Linked DNA regions of Homo sapiens: all the other regions are linked to region 4. Evidence: fine-mapped expression QTL. A gene starts in region 4. Each other region holds a variant in brackets. All regions are shown on one strand. Distances are between the middles of the regions.

Evidence for each region.
Region 1: its variant is fine-mapped to the expression of GXYLT2 in caudate (GTEx, PIP above 0.99). The same link has a PIP of 0.9 or more in breast, left ventricle, nucleus accumbens, putamen, subcutaneous fat and thyroid.
Region 2: its variant is fine-mapped to the expression of GXYLT2 in aorta (GTEx, PIP 0.94).
Region 3: its variant is fine-mapped to the expression of GXYLT2 in tibial artery (GTEx, PIP 0.92).

The regions. Positions count from the first base shown.
Region 1 is chr3:72,972,035-72,977,180 of GRCh38, forward strand. It overlaps GXYLT2 (glucoside xylosyltransferase 2), which reads left to right. Exons shown (of 7, transcript NM_001080393.2): 7 at 2,943-4,881. The coding sequence ends at 3,125. Among named protein-coding and RNA genes, the nearest start is that of PPP4R2, 22 kb to the right of the region's middle. The variant C/A (reference allele first, on the strand shown) is at 3,165.
Region 2 is chr3:72,929,109-72,934,259 of GRCh38, forward strand. The region is part of intron 3 of GXYLT2 (glucoside xylosyltransferase 2); the gene reads left to right. It also overlaps the pseudogene FTH1P23. Among named protein-coding and RNA genes, the nearest start is that of GXYLT2, 44 kb to the left of the region's middle. The variant C/T (reference allele first, on the strand shown) is at 2,410.
Region 3 is chr3:72,907,152-72,912,302 of GRCh38, forward strand. It overlaps GXYLT2 (glucoside xylosyltransferase 2), which reads left to right. Exons shown (of 7, transcript NM_001080393.2): 2 at 1,216-1,408. Among named protein-coding and RNA genes, the nearest start is that of GXYLT2, 22 kb to the left of the region's middle. The variant G/A (reference allele first, on the strand shown) is at 2,930.
Region 4 is chr3:72,885,844-72,890,994 of GRCh38, forward strand. GXYLT2 (glucoside xylosyltransferase 2) reads left to right here and starts at 2,203. Exons shown (of 7, transcript NM_001080393.2): 1 at 2,203-2,665. The coding sequence starts at 2,391. RefSeq lists silencers at 2,243-2,472, 2,573-2,702.

The DNA of each region.
Region 1 (5,146 bases), 86 kb after region 4:
TCTTGCTTATAAACAGTTTCTCTCTATATACCTTTTTCTTTTTCTCCCTTCATCTGTCTCTGAAAATATTCTCTCTCTTTCTCTCTATTTCTCTCTCTGTTTCAGGTGCTCATAGACATCCTAACCTGTGTGTTTGTGTGTACGTGTTTGTGTGAAAGGGCAGTGCAGCCTCCCCACAAGAAGGCATCTATCATATAGACATTTTTGCAGTAATTCTCTTGACAGTCACTTATGAAGCATCTATTTTATGCAGGAACAATTCTAGTTTCTAGGAATTTGGAAGGTAATAAGATGAACAAAGCCCTAGTCTTTAAGAAGCATATATTCTGAGCTGGGCGCAGTGGGTCACACCTCCCAGCACTTTGGGAGACCGAGGCAGGTGGATCACCTGAGGTCATGAGTTCGAGACCAGCCTGGCCAACATGGTGAAACCCCATCTCTACTAAAAATACAGAAATCAGCCGGGCGTGGTGGCAGGCACCTGTAATCCCAGCTACTCAGGAGGCTGAGGCAGGAGAATTTCTTGAACCCAGGAAGTGGAAGTTGCAGTGAGCCAAGATCGCACCACTGCAGTCCAGCCTGGGTGACAGAGCAAGACTCTGTCTCGGAAAAAAAAAAAAAAAAAAAGAAGCATATATTCTGGTGGGGGAAGCCAGACAATACTGATTGAGAAAAAGAAAGAAAAATTCAGCCTGGGCGACATAGTGAGATGCGTCTCTACAAAAATTAAAAAAAAAAAAAAAAAATTAGCCTGGTGGCACATGCAGGTAGTCCCAGCTACTGGGTGGGGAGGGGTTGGGGCTGGGGTGGGAAGATCTCTTGAGCTTAGGAGGCCAAGGCTACAGTGAGCTAGGATGGCCCCACTGTACTCCAGCCAGAGCAAGACTTTGCCTCTTTAGGAAAAAAAATAGTAACAACTGGGCGTCATGGCAAGTGCCTGTGGTCCCAGCTAATTGTGAGGCTGAGATGGAGGATCACTTGAGCCCAGGAGTTCAAGGCTGCAGTGAGCCGTGATTGCCCCTCTGTACTCCAGCCTGGGTGACACAGCAAGACCCTATCTCAAAAGAAAAAAAAATCCTCTGAGATAGTGAAAGGTGAAAGGAGTTCAAAAGGTGTAAAAAGAGTGGGCTGATGGGTCCAAAGTCCTGGGCTGGAGAGGAGTGTTCTACCAGCTGGGGGAGGGGCACCAGGGAGGCTGCTTGTAAGTCCTAGACTTATCAGATGGAGGCAGCCCAGGGGAAATCTGGGGAAAATCCCGTGAAACAGAAGGAATGACCAGGGGAAAGTCCCGGAGGCAGGAATGAATTTGGTGTGCTGGAAAGACAGGAATGGCCAGATAAGAGGAGAGAGGAGGAACTGAGAGGGGAGAGTTTCCAGGTCACCTTGAACCTTTAGAACAAGGGAGGAGTTGGAATCTCATTCTAATGGCAGTGGAAAGCCCCTTCGGGAAAGTGATAGGCTCTGATTTATGATTTAGAAATATCACCTTGGTAATGTGGTGGAAGGGATGCAAGAGTGAAAACACAAAGGCTATTTATTTGTGAGACTAATCGCAGCCACCTGGGTGAGCAATGGGGCCAGCATGGGCTTGCGTGGTGGCAGGAAATGGGAAGAAGTCGCCATATTTGGGATATGCTGTTGAGATAGAGTTTACAGGACTTGCTGATGAATTGGATGAGGGTTGTGGGGGGAAAGAGAGGAATTGAGGGTGATTCCAAGGTTTTGACCTATCCTGTTCCCATTACTGGAGCTACAGTGGTGAAAAGGACAGATTCAGGACTGGCTTCAAGGGGTTTATCAATGATTTAAATTTCATGATTAAAGAAAAAGTATCCCAAACCAACCTGGTCTGGGAGAGAACCTTCTTGCATTACATAATGCATAATCTCCTTCCGAGAAGAAACTGGCATCTCTGATAAACCTGTGTAAGCAGTATTTCTGATTAATTTTAAAGGATTAACATTTGTTCTAGGAAACCAGACACCCACCTCTCCTGTTAGGCAAGAGTGTACTGATCTTTAACCATTCTTCTTTCATTTCTCACTAGTCTTTCCATATAAAATGTCCTGACCAAGAGTGGATCTTTGACTTGATCTACTACCAGACTTTTCCCTTTCAACAAGATTGTAATAAAACTTTGATACATGTGCGTAACTAAGTGGTCTGAAAGATTTATTTTGGGTTATACTGCTCATAGACGTATTCCATGAAGAAAACAAAAGAATTTTAAAAAATGGCAGTGATGATCTCAAAAGCCCAATATTAAGAGGGAAATAAACAACCACTAATATTTGGTACCTGAATTATTAAAATCTGGTTTATTGCCAATAAATTTTACTAGTAATTGTTAAACCCTGAACTTCACGAGATTACCATAGACATACCCTAAAGTTTCTTCATTAAGGTCAAAAAAGATGAAGAATTCATTGTTTTGTTGTAGTAGATTTCAAGTGAGTATCTTGAGCCTTCCTTCTACTCAGCGTAAACATGCTATGATATATGGACTTTCCTGTCCTTAGAGACATGCATCATTTTTAGATTGTAAGACCCTTAAGGACCCAAATTTTTTTTTAATTTTATTACTATTCTTTTTTAATGAGATGGGGTCTTGCCATGTTGCTCAGGCTGGTCTCAAACTCCTGGGCTCAAGTGGTCCTCCCACCTCGGCCTCTCAAAGTGCTGGGGTTACAGGTGTAAGCCACCATGCCTAGCCTTTTTCTTTTTAAAGAGGTAAAGAAACTGAGGTTCGGAGAGTTTAAATGATTACCTGGGGTTGCACAGCTGAGACAGGATTTTAAGTTAGATCCTCAAAGGTCTTTTCACTTGTCCAAACCTGTGCCTGTGGGCTTATCGTAATTCCTGTGTCATTTCTTAGTAAAAATGATCTGCATTTAAAATGGCATTTCCGTTACTAAATAAACTTTTTTTTTGTCATCTTTCAGTTTCCCTTTCAAGACAATCTCTTTCAATCCATGTATTACCCCCTTCAGCTGAAGTTTTTGGAGACTGTGCACACTTTATGTGGACGAATCCCGCAAGTTTTTCTGAAGCAAATTGAGAAAACAATGAAAAGGGCTTATGAGAAACACGTCATCATCCATGTTGGCCCCAACCAGATGCACTGAATATTTTGTCTTGTTGCAAGTCAATTAGGTGTCTTGTGA[C/A]CAAGGAAATACTAATCTCTAAGCTGCCTGGGTCTTTTTGTGTGAATATTTAATGGTGCTCCATGACTGTTGAGTTTTAAAAACCTCGTTAAATTTTGCCAAATCAGTTGCCCCCAAAAGGGAATATGCTTTTCCTTATTTTTTTTTCTAAAATGCTATTTATCTCTAAGGAAAAAAAAAAAAGACTATTACTCATTTAACATTGTTTAAGCAGGTTGAGCTAGCTGTGAAAATAGCTTTTGTGAGCCTTCTAATTCCTAAACGTCTGAGACCATTTCAGTGGCACCTGAGGTGTTATATTGATCTAGCATTCCTGAGACTCTTTCTATGCAACTGACTCCCCCACACCCGTGTTATAAAAGTAATACACACTTTTGAAACAGAGAGACACACTTGTAGAGCATATGGGTCAAGGGCTCAACATCAAGATTAGATTAGCCATAATCCTATTGACCAGTGGAAAAGATTGTTTCCATTTTAAAGCAGTTCCTTACAACCTTTTTTCTCTACTTTTGCATTTTCCACTCTAACACACATCTAAAACAGGTAATCTCAGTAAAAGCTGGCCTTTTTGCTGAGATTTTTATGTGGGAGACTAAAATATTAGATGAGATGATTATGTGTACAGAATTTTATTTAAAATACATCTGAGAGAATCATTCAGATACTTGGGTAGTGTTAAAGGATGAAGCATGTATCTGGGGGTATTTCTTCTTTTTCTTTCTTTCTTTTTTTTTTTTTTTTTTTTTTTGAGACGGAATCTCACTCTGTAGCCCAGGCTAGAATGCAGTGGCAGGATCTCGGCTCACTGCAGCTTCCACCTCCTGGGTTCAAGTGATTCTCATGCCTCAGCCTCCCCAGTAGCTGGGATTACAAGTGTGTGCCACCACACCCGGCTAATTTTTGTATTTTTAGTAGAGACACGGTTTTACCATGTTGGCCAGGCTGGTCTTGATCTCCAGACCTCAAGTGATCTGCCTGCCTCAGCCTCCCAAAGTGCTGGGATTACAAGTGTGAGCCACTGCACTCAGCCAATCTGGGAGTATTTCTAAAGAAAAAAATTACTTTGATTTGTGGAGGACTAAATCATAATACATTTCTATGCAACAATAGCTTCTGAGAGGAAATTCAGGAATGTTTGTGTTTACCACAGACAAAAACATTTGATCTGTTAATCATCAGTAGCTGTGGTCATCTCTCTTTCTTAAACTCTTGGGCAATGGGTGGAAATCAGAGACCAACTTCAAATTTAATGTGTAAAAAACAAATAGTTCAGCTGCTTCTATTGGTAAGAAAATTCAACTTCCTACCAGCCTTAGAAAGGTCTCTTTAAACAATTTCTTTCCCCCTAGGGTTACCTAGCTGGTCCATACAGGTTTTATCACCTCACTGCAAGGAGGAAGTTGAATATTCTGTTCCCCACGGGGATCTGGCTTAATCCCTAGTTGCTCATATAGTTGGTATCAGCATAGCAATATTTTGCATAATGCTTTATTTTTCTCAAATGACTATTGCATAGATGATCTTGATATTTGCAACAGCCTAGTGGATTTGGTAGGGTCCTGAATCATCTCTATAAGGCAAACAAGGAAATTGTAACACAAAGAAATAAACATATTGAATATAATTGCTATTCTGTAAGACATACAGTCTGTGTAAGATGTATCTTATTTACAGAGACATTTTTGAAAATTAAAATATTAAATACTTTTTGTTATATAGAGACAATGATCTGGAAGTATAAAAAGAAAAATATTATCTTGTTGATGTAAATATGATATCCTTATATATATTAGAATCCAATAAGATATCATGGGCGCAATATTAGCAAAAAAAAGTCAGTCTTACCCTGAAAAAAAAATAGATATGAAAATCTCAGCACTACACAGAAATGTTTAGATGTCAATCAGTTTTGGTATGCAGCATTATTATAGTAGTAACAAATTTAAATCTAAAATTTTAGAGTAATACTTTCCTTCTGA
Region 2 (5,151 bases), 43 kb after region 4:
GCTAGATCAACCTGGAGCTCTACGCCTCCTACGTTTACCTGTCCATGTCTTACTACTTTGACCGCGATGATGTGGCTTTGAAGAACTTTGCCAAATACTTTCTTCACCAATCTCATGAGGAGAGGGAACATGCCGAGAAACTGATGACGTTGCAGAACCAACGAGGTGGCCGAATCTTCCTTCAGGATATCAAGAAACCAGACTGTGACGACTGGGAGAGCGGGCTGAATGCGATGGAGTGTGCATTACATTTGGGGAAAAAAAAATATGAGTCAGTCACTACTGGAACTGCACAAACTGGCCAGTGACAAAAATGACCCCCATTTGTGTGACTTCATTGAGACACATTACCTGAATGAGCAGGTGAAAGCCATCAAAGAATTGGGTGGCCACGTGACCAACTTGTGCAAGATGGGAGCACCCGAATCTGGCTCGGCAGAATATCTCTTTGACAAGCACACGCTGGGAGACAGTGATAACGAAAGCTAAGCCTCAGGCTAATTTCCCCATAGCCATGGGGTGACTTCCCTGGTCACCAAGGCAGTGCATGCATGTTGGGGTTTCCTTTACTTTTTCTATAAGTTGCACCACAACATCCAGAAAAAAGAAAATATTCACTTAATGCAAAATAAAGCAGAAAAGAAAGAATAGAGGAACAACAAAAATATTAGACATATAGAAAACAAATAGTAAAATGGCAGACATAAATTCGACTATATAAATAATAGCATTGAATGTGAATGGATTCGACAATCAAATAAAAACACAGAGTTGCAGGCCCGCTGCAGTGGCTCATGCCTGTAATCCCAGCACTTTGGGAGGCCAAGGCAGGTGGATCACCTGAGGTCAGAAGTTCAAAACCAGCCTGGCCAACATGGTGAAATGGTGTCTCTACTAAAAATACAAAATTAGCTGGGCGTGGTGGCGTGCACCTGTAATCCCAGCTACTCGAGAGGGTGAGCCAGGAGAATCACTTGAACCCAGGAAGCAGAGGGTGCAGTGAGTTGAGATTGCGTCATTGCACTCTAGCTTGGGCAAAAAGGGCGAAACTCCATCTCAAAAAAACAAAAAAAAAAACAGAGTTGCAGTTATAGTTGATAAAGAATACAGTCGAACTGTGTGCTCTCTATAGGAGGTGTTCATGCCTGTAATTCTAGCTGATGCGGGCAGATCACTTGAGCTCAGGAGTTCAAGACCAGCCTGGCCAACATGGTGAAACCTCATCTCTCCTAAAAACACAAAAATTAGCTGGGCGTGGTGGCATGTGCCTATAGTCCCAGCTACTCAGGAGACTGAGGCAGGAGAATTGCTTGAGCCCAGGAGGCGGAGATTGCAGTGAGCCAAGATCATGCCACTGCACTCCAGCCTGGGTAACAGGAGTGAAACCCTGTCTCAAAAAAAAAAAAAAGATATAAATAAGCAATTCATCAACAGTAGTAGGAGATATGAGTGCCCCTCTTTTCTTTTTCTTTTTCTTCTTCTTCTTTTTTTTTTTTTTTTTTTGACACAGGGTTTCACTCTGTCACCCAGGCTAGAGTACAGTGGTATGATCATGGCTCACTGCAGCCTTGACCTCCCAGGCTCAGGTGATCCTCCCACCTCAGCCTCTCAAGTAGCTGGGACTACAGGTGTGCACCACCAAGCCCAACTAATTTTCATACTTTTTGTAGAGATGGGGTTTCACCCTGTTGCCCAGGCTGGTCTCGAACCCCTGGGCTCAAGTGATCCACCTGCCTCAGCCTCCCAAAGTGCTAGGATTACAGGCATGAGCCACTGCACCCAGCTGCCTTACTTTCAATAATGGATTGAACAACTAGGCTGAATGTCAACACGGAAATAGAAGAACAACACCATAAACCAGCTGAACCAACCGACTTCTTTAGGACACTCCACCCAACACCAGTAGAATACGTTCTTGTGAGTGCACATGAAACTTTCTCCAGAATGGACCATATGTTGTACCATAAAAGAAGCTGTAAAAAGCATAAAAGGATTGAAGTTATACAATGTATGTTCTCTGACCACAGTGGAATGGAATTAGAAGTCAATAACAGAAAGAAATTTGGGAAGTTAACAAAAATGTAGAAATTAAGTAACATACTTCTTTATTTTTTTATTTTATTTTCTATTTTTTTTTTGAGACGGAGTCTTGCACTGTCCCCAGGCTGGAGTGCAGTGGCTCCATCTCCGCTCACTGCAAGCTCCGCCTCCCAGGTTCACCCCCCATTCTCCTGCCTCAGCTTGCCGAGTAGCTGGGACTACAGGTGCCCGTCACCACACATGGCTAATTTTTTGTATTTTTAGTAGAGACGGGGTTTCACCATGTTAGCCAGGATGGTCTCGATCTCCTGACCTCGTGATTCACCTGCCTCGGCCTCTCAAAGTGCTAGGATTACAGGCGTGAGCCAC[C/T]GCGCCCGGCCTAAGTAACATACTTCTTTCTAAATAGCCAATTGCTTTAAGAAGAAACTACAAGGGAAACTACAATGAAAATGAAGATACAACATACCAGTACTTATGGCAGACACCTAACACAGGGTTTAGAGGGAAATTTATAAACTTCAGCAGTACAAATGAGGAAAGGCCTCAAGTCAATAGCCTAACCTTCCACTTTACAGCACCTCAGAAGAGCAAACTAAATCCAAGCAAGCAGAAGGATGGAAATAATAAAGATTCAACTGAAAATTAATGATACAGAGAAGAGAAAAAACAGTAGAGGAGTAACACCAAAACTAAAAATTGGTACTTTGAAAAGATCAACAAAATTGACAAACCTTTAGGTAGACTGAGCTAGAAAACAAGGGAAGACTCAAACTACTAAAATCAGGAAGGAAAGAGGGAACATAACTACCAACATTACCAAAATAAAAGGATTATAAAGCAATACTATGAATAATTGTATTTCAATCAATTAGGTAATTTAGATGAAATGGACAAATTTGAATTCTGTGGATTGTCTTTTAACTTTTTTTTTTTTTTTGAGATGGAGTTTTCTGGAGTGCAATGGCACGATCTTGGCTCACACCAACCTCCGCCTTCTGGGTTCAAGCAATTCTCTTGCCTCAGCCTCCCCAGTAGCTGTGATTACAGGTGCCCACCACCACGCCCAGCTAATTTTTTGTGTGTATTTTTAGTAGAGATGGGGTTTCACCATGTTGGCCAGGCTGGTCTCAAACTCCTAACCTCAGTTGATCCACCTGCCTCAGCCTCCCAAAGTGCTGGGATTACAGACATGAGCCACCGTACGTGGCCCACTTTAATAGTGTCATTGGCAACACAAAAGTATTTAATTTTGTTTAATTCAAAGTTATCTATTTCCATTTTTGTTGTACTTTTGGTGTCATATCTAAGAAACCATTGTTTAATCCAAAGTCATGCTTATTTCTGAACCAATCATTATGTCCAGGAAGACAGGATACTCAGATTGGCTTGACTTGAATCACATTCTCCTCCATGGGCCACAGGGGCCAACAACATTTAAGCCACATGGATTGGGTTTTACCACAAGAGAGTGGCTCTTGTCAGGAGATGGAGAAAGATATGAAGGGGAGGGCAAACAATAAACATCTGTTTGGCTTAACAATGAATAGTTATATAACATTTCTTCTCAGGCCTTCAGAGAGGTCCAGTTACTTTGTTAAGATGAGGAATATGAGATAATATACAAAGTGTGGCCTTTAGAAAATGTAATAGCCACAGTGTTAGGAAGCATTTAATGGAGACAAATTAATTTGAGATATTATTATATAGAGACAGTATGGTATAGTTGTTAAGACCCCAGGCTCTGGAAGCAGCCCAAATACATTTAAATCTTGTTTCTACCACTTACCACTTTGTAACCAGAAGAAATAATTTCAACTTTCCTTGCCTCCATTTACTCATCTGTAAAAAGAGAATAATAATATTGCCTATCTCATAGTGTTGTGAAAATTCAAATTAGTGAATACATTTAACACCCTTGGAAACAATGCCTGGCACATAGAAAGTGTTAGATACTATTTTTATTATTATACCTATTTTTTTAGGACTGATATGTAGCATGAAACTACTGAGACAGTTAATTCTCTTTCCGAAAAGGACTTTATCTTGATTAATAGCAACATCATTTTTTTTGACCCAGTCGGCCAAGCCATAACTAACCATGAACAATTGTAAACATGTCCCAGCAGGTAACGCTCCTATTAAAACATCAGTCACATTGTAGGGAATTGTCTTTTTGACTCCAGCATAATTAGCATCATAGTATTAGATGCTAATAGTTGCAGTAGTTGCTAGTAAATGCTAATAGATGCAATAGTTCTACAACTGAAGAGTCATTATATTTCTTACGAAGCCTAGTGTAAGAATCACAATAATATATGTTGATTACTTACTGTAACGTAGTTCTTTGGTTGAAAGTGATCATATATGATGTTGGCTATAGTAAGTACAAATATTAAGAAAAAAGAAAAATAAATGAACGTGATCATAATTGATTCAGGCTGAGTTAATCAGAAGAGAATTTGATTGAAAGGATGTTGGGGCTGGACACAGTGGCTCGTACCTGTAATCCCAACACTTTAGAAGGCCAAGATGGGAAGATGACTTGAGCCCAGGAGTTCAAGACCAGCCTGAGCAACAAAGTGACACCCTGTCTCTACAAAGAATTAACCGGGTGTGGTGGCACAGGTCTGTAGTCCCAGCAGCCTGGGGGGGCCGAGCTTGGAGGATCACTTGAGCTCCAGGAGATCGAGGCTGCAGATGAGCTGTGATGGCCCCACTGCACTCCAACTCGGGCAACAGAGTGAGATCCTGTCTCAAAAATTAAGAATAATAATAATAAAGAAAGGAAAGGATGTTGGGAGTTCTCAGAATGAAAGAGGAGCTTAGCCAGCTGGACTTGTGTTGGATTAAAGATGGCAAGGAAATTATTTGTATTTGTATTCATTCTTTCCTAAAACTATACAAAAATTGATAGTTAATTTTAATTTTATTCTTTTTTTTTTTTTTTTTTTGAGACAGGGTCTTGCTCTGTCACCCAGGCTAGAGTGTAGTGGTGTGATCACAGCTTATTGAAGCCTCAACCTCCTCCTGGGTTCAAGTGATCCTTCCATCTCAGCCTCTGGAGTAGCTGGGACTGCAGGTGTGCACCACCATGCCAGGCTAATTTTTGTA
Region 3 (5,151 bases), 21 kb after region 4:
TACTGTCTTTTCCTGTGATCCCCGAAGTAAATGGAATCCAAGTAACTCTCCGCATCTGGTCTTAGCTGAGCCATGAGGCTGTGCTTCTACTAAGCATGCTCATAAGTAATCAAACTGGGAGCCTTTCCAAAATGCTCCACCCACATCTTCAACTTTCCTCCTGGTGAAAGAAATCTGGAGCAAGACTGCCATTATTCAACCATGCAGTGAATAATGGAGCAGCAAGCTGATTGAACTCGAAGTTTTTGGAAGGAAGGTAGCATTTGACATCCAAGTTCCCCTGGTCTCCAAATCTTTTGTGCAAGTAAATTAGTTTCATTTGTCTCAGGGCACCTTTTCCAGGCCAACTTCTTCCAACTTGACTGCAAATGTTTCTCAGTGGTGTGTTTGAGGCTTGGCTGCATCCCTTCGTCTGGAACAAATCTTTTATTACTAGGAAATAGCTGGATGATGATTCTGGACCCTTGGACCCTATCCCTCTGTCAGCTGTTGACTCAATATTTGATACCTTGATCATTTTCAGATTAACCTACCCCCTCTCCTGCCTGTTTCTCATTAATGTGAATTTCATACTGGAAGATGAATTTCATACCCACCACCTCACCAGTATTGGCGAGACGGTCAGGATTAACACCTGTTTCTTCAAGACTCTCCTGAGATGTCGTCAGGGCGCATATGTTGTTTTCTTTGCTCACCTCCCAGACTTGCATGACTTGCTTTGGTCCAGTGGTCATGCATTCCACCCCAACCTAAAAACATCCAGATGATGGGAATATCATGTTGCTCGTTTCACATGGGAAAGCCACAACCCACACTCCTCTTGTTCAAGTTGCATTCAAATCTAATTTCCACGGCCTGTGCGAGTGGGAGCTCCACAGCCCTTGTGTCAGCTGTCGAAGTTTAGCAATACTATTTCCAAACATGGGCCAGTAGGCAGCCAGCAGGCACCAGACAGCTGAGTGCTGGCAGAAAAAGCCTCAGACACCTATAGCAGTCCAAACAGTGACTCATCCTGCTATTGCCAGGATAAATATGGGAATAAATGGTATTTTTCTCTAAGCAGGAAGAATTGTCAAAATGCTTATCACTTTATAAAATATAACAGATTGTGCCTGATCATGTTTTGAAATGTTCTAACCATTCACTCGCCGGTTTTTTGTTGTTTTTACTTTTTTGAGTTTAGTAATAGCTTTCACTTGTTTTCCCTCTTTCTAGGAGGCCTGGAGAACCCAGGAGTTTCCAAGCTGTGCTGCCACCCGAGCTCTGGATCCACCTGGCTGTGGTGGCCTGTGGCAATCGGCTGGAGGAGACGCTGGTCATGCTCAAATCAGCTGTGCTTTTTAGCCACAGGAAGATCCAATTCCACATCTTCACTGAAGACTCTCTGAAGCCCGAGTTTGATAAGCAGGTGAATTTGCAGAAATCATGGCACAGTGTTTACTAAGTACAAACAGACTACATTTTAGGAACTGCATATTCTGTTAACTAATGTATTTTGCTGCATGTTCAATTGTGTGACTTTGAACACTTGACTCTGAGCCTCAGTTTTTGGTAAAACAGGGATAATTATACCTACCTCATAGAGACATGGTGAGGATTGAATGAGACGAGGGTCTCACTCTATTGCCAAGGGTAGAGTACAGTGGTGCAATCTCGGCTCACTGCAGCCTCAACCTTCCAGGCTCAAGTGATCCTCCCGCCTTAGCCTCCCAAGTAGCTGGGACTACAGGCATGCACCACCATGTCTGGCTAATTTTTGTGTATTTTTTAATAGAGACAGAATTTTGCCGTGTTGCCCAGGTTGGCTTAAGCAGTCTACCCACCTTGGCCTCCCAAAGTGCTGGGGTTATAGGCATGTGCCACCATGCCCAGCCCCCGTTTTTTCCTTTTCTTTCTTTCTTTCTTCCTTTCTTTTTTTTTTTTTTTTTTTTTTTTGAGACAGCGGCTCACTCTGTTGCCCAGGCTGGAGTCCAGTGGTGCGATCTTAGCTCATTGCACCCTCTGTTTCCTGGGTTCAAGCGATTCTTCTGCCTCAGCCTCCCGAGTAGCTGTGATTACAGGACTGTGCCCCCATGCCTGGCTAATTTTTGTATTTTTAGTAGAGATGGGGGTCTCACCATGTTGCCTAGGCTGGTCTTGAACTTCTGACCTCAAATGATCCACCTGCCTGTCCCTCCCAAAGTGCTGGGATTACAGGCATGAGCCACTGCGCCTGGCCGGTTTTTTTTTCCCCATATATAGTTGTCTGTCTATGTTTGTACATATAGACATGCATATGTATAATTACATACATATGTATGTATCCTGATTAAATTGTATTTCTTTTACGAAAATCAGGATTGTACTCTGTATATTGTTGTGGAACTTGCTTTTTGCATTGAAAACTGTATCATCAGCATTGTTCCCAGTCAGTACTCCTACATTCTTACCTCATTCTTTTTGGTGACTACATAGTATTTTATTATGGGGCTGGGTCCTCATTTATTTGACTATTCCCATACTGAAGAACAGGTAATGAGTTTTTTCCAGTACACAAAAAGAGCTTTGGAAAGGTCTCTTCCCCCAGCGTAGGTACACACGTGACCTTTGCAGATCAAGCTTTGTTTTCCTTGAGAGTTTTCTCTTGCTGTAAGTTCTCAAATGGTGGCAGAGCGAGAAGCTGGTTTGCTTTGTGTCTACCAACTTGAGTCAACAGTGCTGTATCCTGTCACCAGGCTAGCTGGACTAATGAGAAATGCCCAAAAAAAGCATGTTGGGCAGAGAAAGGCTAATAATAGAAAGATGGAAAATGTGTTATGTTTGAGTAGGAAAAAAAAAGTACCTTGACATCTTTACCAAGAGAAACCATGGAGGAAATAGTCTTGGGGCTTTGGAATTGATTGGAAAATGCCTTGTAAAGGATCTGAATCAGGGGAAGGGTGAAGGAAAA[G/A]GGCTGAAACTCTATATAGTTAGCTCAGAGGGTGAAGTATAAGGGAAATGATAATGAGAATATATAGCATTTGTTAAGGGCTTATGATTTATGAGTTCATCTCATTTAATCCTCATAATCTTCAAAGGTAACCTTTGAAGAAGGTAATTATTATGTCCCAATTTTACAGACTGAGATCATTGAGCTTAGAGAATTTTAGTGATTTGCTCCTCAGGGTTCAGGTCAAGTTTATGGCTCACCCTTCCATGGAATTAATCGATATGCCATACCACCTCCTCAACTAGTAGACAGAAGACTCAAATTCAAAACTCACCTCCACTATGTACTTGCTATATGACCTTGGGTTAGTCTTTTGGCCTTTTTGAGCCTCAGTTTCCCCATCTGCAACTTGAGGCTAGCGGGTTTGCTAAAAGAGATGGTAGATCTGTAATATGGATAGGTCAGGTCAGGCTTCAGTAACAACTCCCCCAAAACTCAGACACTTTTCATGTGCCTGCAGCTTGCTTCCCAGGGGACAGAGCCTCCATTCTGTACAGCCTCTTAGGTTTGGGACGGAAGTAGACTGAGGCTATTCATGTGTTAGCTACACTTGCCAGAGCATTTGACATCTGTAGTTCGTGGGATGCCATGGCAGGAAAGAGACTAGAGAGTCATAACCCCGCCTTTCATTCCCTCAGTGTGGCAGTGACACAGGTCTTTCCATGCATGTTTAACTGGCTAGTAGTCACAAGCCCATCCAACTGCAGGGGACTGAGAAGTGCTCTATGTGGCGGAACAAAGGGAAGCTGGCTATGTGCAAACACTACTCATGTCTTGTACAATATCTGTCTACCCAGTACTTAATGAGTACCTGCTGCATACTAAAAAGCAAGGATGTGGGGATGGAGCAGAACAAAATACAGACTTGGACTTTAAAAGGGGAAGGGAAGGGCCAGGCGTGGTGGCTCACACCTGTAATCCCAGCACTTTGCGAAGCTGAGGCGGGCGGATCACCTGAGGTCAGGAGTTCGAGACCAGCCTGGTCAACATAGTAAAACCCTGTCTCTACTAAAAATACAAAAATTAGCTGGGTGTAGTGGAGTGCGCCATAGTCCCAGCTACTCAGGAGGTTGAGGCAGGAGAATTGCTCAAACCTGGGAGGCGGAGTTGCAGTGAGCTGAGATTGTGCCATTGCACTCTAGCCTGGGCGACAGAGAAAGACTCTGTCTCAAAAAAAATAACGAAAGGGAAGGGAAGGAAGATGTATACGTGCAACCATATCTGTTTAGCAGGTTGTACTTTCCAAGGAGGCCCCCAATGGTCCCACCTTCTGTTATTCTCATGCTGGTATACTTCCCTCCTACATTGTCCCAGGGTCCTCTGTGTAACTAATAGGACAGGGCAGAAGGGATGGTATGTCACTTCTGAGATTAAGTTACAAAAGGCACTTCACCTTCCATCTCGGATCAGTGGGTCTGGGGGAAGCCAGCTACCATGTCAGAGTAGCCCTCTGGAGAGGCCTGCATGGTGAGGAACAGAGGACCCTTGCCAACACTTGTGTGTGAGCTGGATGGAAGATCCTCCAACCCCTTCAAGCCTTCAGATGACCATAGTCCTGTAATCTCATGAGAGGCCCTGAAACAGAACAACCCAGCTTGTACATTCTCAACCCTAAGAAACTATGTAAAATCATACATGTTTGTGGTTTTATTTACTTTTATTTTTATTTTTTTGAGACAGGGTCTCACTCTGTTGCCCATTGCAGTGACACAATCATAGCTTACTGCATCCTTGAACGCCTGGGCTCAAGCAATCCTCCTGCCTCAGTATCCCCTCCATGCCTGGCTAATAAAAATATATATTATATATACTTAAATGTATATAATATATAAGTTGGGTGTGTGTGTGTGTGTGTGCATGTGTGTGTGTGTGTGTATATATATATATATATATATTTTTTTTTTTTTTTGAGACAGCGTCTCGCTCTGTCTCCCAGGCTGAAGTGCAGTGGCATGATCTTAGCTCACAGCATTCTCCGCCTCCTGGATTCAAGAAGTTCTCATGCCTCAGCCTCCCAAGTAGCTGGGACTACAAACTGCGCCACCACGCCCGGCTAATTTTTGTATTTTTAGTAGAGACAGGGTTTCGTCACATTGGCCAGGCTTGTCTCGAACACCTGACCTCAAGTAATCTACCTGCCTCAGTCTCTCAAAGTGCTGGGATTACAGGCATGAGTCACTGTG
Region 4 (5,151 bases):
GATGTAGTTTTCCACCAATCAGAGCAATCCAAACAAATCCAAAAGTTGAGTTTGGACTCAGTGGAAGGAGGCAGATTAGGCTTTTTTTTTTGGCTTCAGTGAGGTTCAAGAAAACTGAGTCCTCTCTTTGGTCCATGATTCTTTGGTGTTTGAGGCTAAAACCCTGGCTACTAATCAAGTGTTACTTTGACTCACTCTGCCTTTGTTTATCCTTGTTGCATCTGTCCTCCTAGAGGTAGAAGGGAGGGGGCAAGACAGAGTTGGGAATGCCTGCTTCTCTGGGCCACATGTCAACAGAGTGGTGGCCATTTCTAAACCTGAAAGATCTAAACATCATGCCTTAGCCTGGCCTAGTGTTTCTCAACAGGGTCCCACATTGGGCCAGGATAGTTTTCGTTGTTGGTATGTCCTGAGCATTGCAGGAGGTTTTGCATATGCTAGTAGAACCTGTCAGCCTTCCCACAATTCCAGATGCTTCCTGGTAGGATGGAACCTTCTCCCTCATCTTTGAGAACTAATGGATTCTTTGCGCTTACTCACCTACAACATGTCCCCCACACTGAACTTGCACCCTGCCATTTCCTAGATGTCTGCTTGGCAAGAGCTTCCAAATTACTAAATATTCTCATCTCTAGAACTTTTAATACAATGGGTTCTCAAGGAATTAAAATAAAATGCTAATATGAGAATAATTCAGAATATAACTAAATTTTAGATTATTTATAAAGCAACATGGAATCTTGTAGAAACTCAGGGACGGGCTGGGCGCGGTGGCTCATGCCTGTAATCCCAGCACTTTGGAAGAACGAGACGGGCGGATCACTTGAGGTCAGGTGTTCAAGACCAGCCTGGCCAACGTGGTGAAACCCCGTCTCTACTAAATATACAAAAATCAGCCGGGTGTGGTGGCGCAGCCTGTAATCCCAGCTACTTGGGAGGCTGAGGCAGGAGAATGGCTTGAACCCGGGAGGCGGAGGCTGCGGTGAGTTAAGATTGCACCATTGCACTCCTGCCTGGGCTACAGAGTGATCCAAAAAAAAAAAAAAAAAAAAAACTGAAAAACTCAGGGACGTTGTTATAACTTAACTAGTGTTCTTTGTTCTGTGGTGTGCTGAAAAGAGAGTTAATGGAGTCCTGGCTGTCAGTTCACCGTGAGTCATAAGAGGATGTGTCCTAATGTTTCAGATTTGTAACTGGGGATCCCCTGGAAGAATCGTCTGGAAATTACGACCTTCATCTGGCGATTGCAGCTGTTAAAGTCTCCAAAGAAGCCATTCTTACATTGTGTTGTGAAATTATTACTCTATCTCAAATCTGTGCCAGAAAGAAAATAAAATGTGTGTTTATGTGTATATTATAAGCTATGTTTTATTGAACTAATCATTACAGAACTTTTATTGGGCACCGACTGTGAGCCAGGCACTGTGCTAGTTTCTTTGAAGGCATTATTTAATTTAATGCTCACAAAACGCCTCTGTAGTGAGCAGTATTGTCATTCCCATTTTGCACGTAAGGAAGTTAAGGCTTAAGAAAGTTGTGCAGCTTCCTCAGGATCACCAAGCCAGTTAAGCACAGTGTCAGATTTCAAATCCAAACTTTGAAATTCATTCTCTAATTTCTTCAGACTACATGGATCGGTTCGGTCCAGTCTAGCTGTCCCAAGTTCTACTTTGGTGTTTTGAGTCTGAAACCCCAACTACTAATCACGTGTTACTTTTACTCGCTTTGCCTTATTTTGCATGTGTCCTTGTTGAATATGTCCTCCTCCAGGAAAAAGGGAGGTGGCAAGACAGAGGCGGCAATAGGGGTTTATTCAACAGATATTTATTGGGCACCACCACCCGCAGATCCCTGCACTGGGCAAACAGGACAGAGATGTTCCTGCCTGAAAGGATGTGTGGATAAGTGCACAAATGTGTGGATAGATGGATAAAATAAATAAGGAGGAAGCACATGGAATACATCAACAAATAAGTGAATCATGGTATGAGAGAATCAGCGGGAACAGTGGATGGCATGGGTGTGTGAGTGAATGGGGAAGTAAACGAACGAACGAACGAATGAATGAATGAAGTGGTTTTGAGTCTGAGCTACCAGAAGCCCGAGAGCCTGGCTGCGGGCGGGCGGAGGGGCGGCTACTCCACACAGTACGGTAGGCGCAGGCTGCTCCTCCTGTAACCCAGCTCTCACCGCCTCCCCCTCCTCTCCTCTCTCTCCTCCTCCTTCGCCGTCGCCGCCGCCGCCGGCCGCCCGCCGGCCGCCACGACCCCAGTCCCCGGCGGGCGGGCGGAGGAGGCGACCGCCGCGCGCTGCTGCACTCATCCTGCCGCCGCCGCGATGCGCAGAGGGGCCGAGCCGCCTGGGGGCCGCCGCCGCCGCCGCGCCGCACCATGAAGCTCCGCAGCAAGGCGGCGGCGCTGCTCTTGCTCGCGCTGGCCGCGCTGCTGCTGGCGCTGCTGTCCCTGCGCGCTGGCCGCGCTGAGCCCCCAGCGCTGCCCGCGCGCCCCGCGTCCGCCCCGCAGCGCCACCCCGCGCCTGTCCCCGCGCGCTGGCCGGGGCCGGGCGCCCTCCCCGGGGCCAGCCCGGGAGTTCGGAGGCGCCGGCCCCCGCGTCCGCGCCCCCGAGCGGGCCGCCGGGGCGCTGCGAGACTGGAGAAGTTGGCGAGGTGAGTCGTGGCAACCCCAGAATCCCATCTGCGGACCCGTGTCTCGCTCCCTACACCCGTGCCAAGTCCAAGGGAGGCTTTGCGCTGGAGAGACAGATTTCCAAGTTTCACCCACGGGCTGCCCACTTCTGTTTCTTAACCCGATAGAAAAGAAGACCCACCTTGGTGGAGTCCCCCTAACAGCTCGGTGTTGATAATCACGTACATTTTTTGAAGTGTCAAGGAAAGTGGTTTCGTACATTACATTTTTTAACTGTCAAGGCAAGGCGTATTTTTGCACTCTTGCAAACATGCACCCTTTGTTTAATTTGTCAAAAGCCATCACGGTGCAAGAATGTTTTATCTAATTCTCATGTTTCACTGGAGAATTTTACCGAAACCTTAGATATGGTTGAGTTGGAAAAGTTAGATGTTTACCAAGGACTGGCAGCCTCTCATTTAACCTCGAGTACCCCCATGCTTAGAACAGAAGGGACACTTGACCTAAGTTTATTAAAAAGAAGTTTTCTCCTTGAAAGGACTGATGCGTGGCACAGAAAAGACAGAGTGGGGGTTTCCAGATCCTCATTCTGTTTCAGGCTCGAGTGTGGTCAAAGGGTCCTCCTACAAGAAAAACAACTTAACCTTCGACCTTCTGTTTGATACTCTCTTTCCCTACACAAAGCCTAACACGCGGAGGCTTTTCATCAGAGAGCTTTATTTTTGGCCTCAGGGTTGCTGGAACGCCCCGCAGGTTAGGGATTTGAGTTCATTTCCTTTGTTGTGGAGGGCTTTTCAACAATCCCCTTGTCTTGTAGCGAGTCTGTTTCATCTGCCCTTTCAAAACTGTTGTTTCTAACTGCCATTGCAACGTCCTTGTTTGCTGGGCTCCTTAATTTCAACCTGAAAGGAGTTGAAAAATTATTTTTGACCATAATGACTAAATCTCTTTGGTGCCTTTACTGTAACTAAAAGACACGAAACCTCAAGAAGTAGCTGTGTCAGCCTTTGTTTCCCTTCTGTCTCAGTACAAATGGGTACTGACAAGTTTTAGGGGGAAAAAACCCCAACAATCTGTCGCTTTAAAGTACTTATAACACTTTACAGCCCTTTCTGGATGTATACAGTCTTTAAGGATATCTTTGTTAGGAAATTAATAGGATTTCCCCTCTTCTATACTGGAGTTTCTTGTAAGAGATTAATTAGGGTTTAACTGCAAGTTTAATATGATTGCTAAGTTTGATGGGACAACTGGTAAGATAATAATAACTGTCATCCTTAACATCGCTAACCTATTGCCAGGGACAGTGCTAACCGCAGTACATACAAATAGTCACAGTTAACACTTAACATATACAACTACATAATCCACACCATAACCTTCCCCCCCACCGCTGTTTTTCTTTTGGTTTTTTTTTTGTTTTTTTTTTTTTTTTGTGACAAAGTCTTCCTCTGTCGCCCAGGCTGGAGTGCCGTGCTGCGATCTCTGCTCACTGCAACCGCTGCCTCCCGGGTTCAGGCCTCCCAGATTCAAGTGATTCTTGTGCCTCAGCCTGCCAGGTAGCTGGCAAACAGGCGTGTGCCACCATGCCCAGCTGATTTTTGTATTTTTAGTAGAGAGACGGGGTTTCACCATATTGGCCAGGAACTCCTGAGCCCAGTGATCCATCTGCCTCAGCCTTTCCCAAAGTGCTAGGATTACAGGCGTGAGCCACCGCGCCGGGCCCAACCATAACCCTTTGACAGTGGTTCTCAAAGTGTGGACTTCAGACCAGTGGCACAGGCATCATCTGGGAACTTGTTAGAAATGCAGATTCCTGGGCCCCACCCCAACCCTACAGAATCAGAAGCTTTGGGGGGTCAGCAACCGTGTTTTAACACGTCCCTCCCATTGTTTCTCATGCACAACAAAGTTTGAGAACCTGCTCTGCAAAGTAAGCACCAATGGTATCCCCACTTTTCAGATGAGGAAAGTATTGCACAAGGGTTAGCAGTTTGTCCAAGGTTCACAGGTAACCTGGTAGAGAAGGATAAAGATCCAGGCAGTGTGGGCTCAGGTTGAGCACTTACCTGCTATGCTGATGTCAGGCCATAGACTTGCCTGCAATTCGTAATTTTACTGAGATGTCTTTTAAAGAAACACTGTAGATTTTTGGATCTGTCTCATTCTTCAAGGTGTCGAGAACAGTGGCGCAGCATCTTTTTGTGTCTATCTGAACAAAGTGTCTCTGACTAGGAGGAGATCATGAACAGAATCCAAATGGATGTTTTAGGGAAGGAGTGTTTCTATTTCCAGGAGTAACAGTACCCTTGAAGCCATTTTTCTTTTGAACATATCTCTTAGATTATCGTGGAAATTATGGCCAACACCATAGGAATACAGAACAAAATTTTAAAACTGGGGAAGGAGTAAAAAACAAAAGCCACAGGAAGTCTCAGGCTCAAATGCATAAACAGTTGACATTTTCTGGGACTTATTTATTGTTTCTCTTGCTACCTCCACAGAA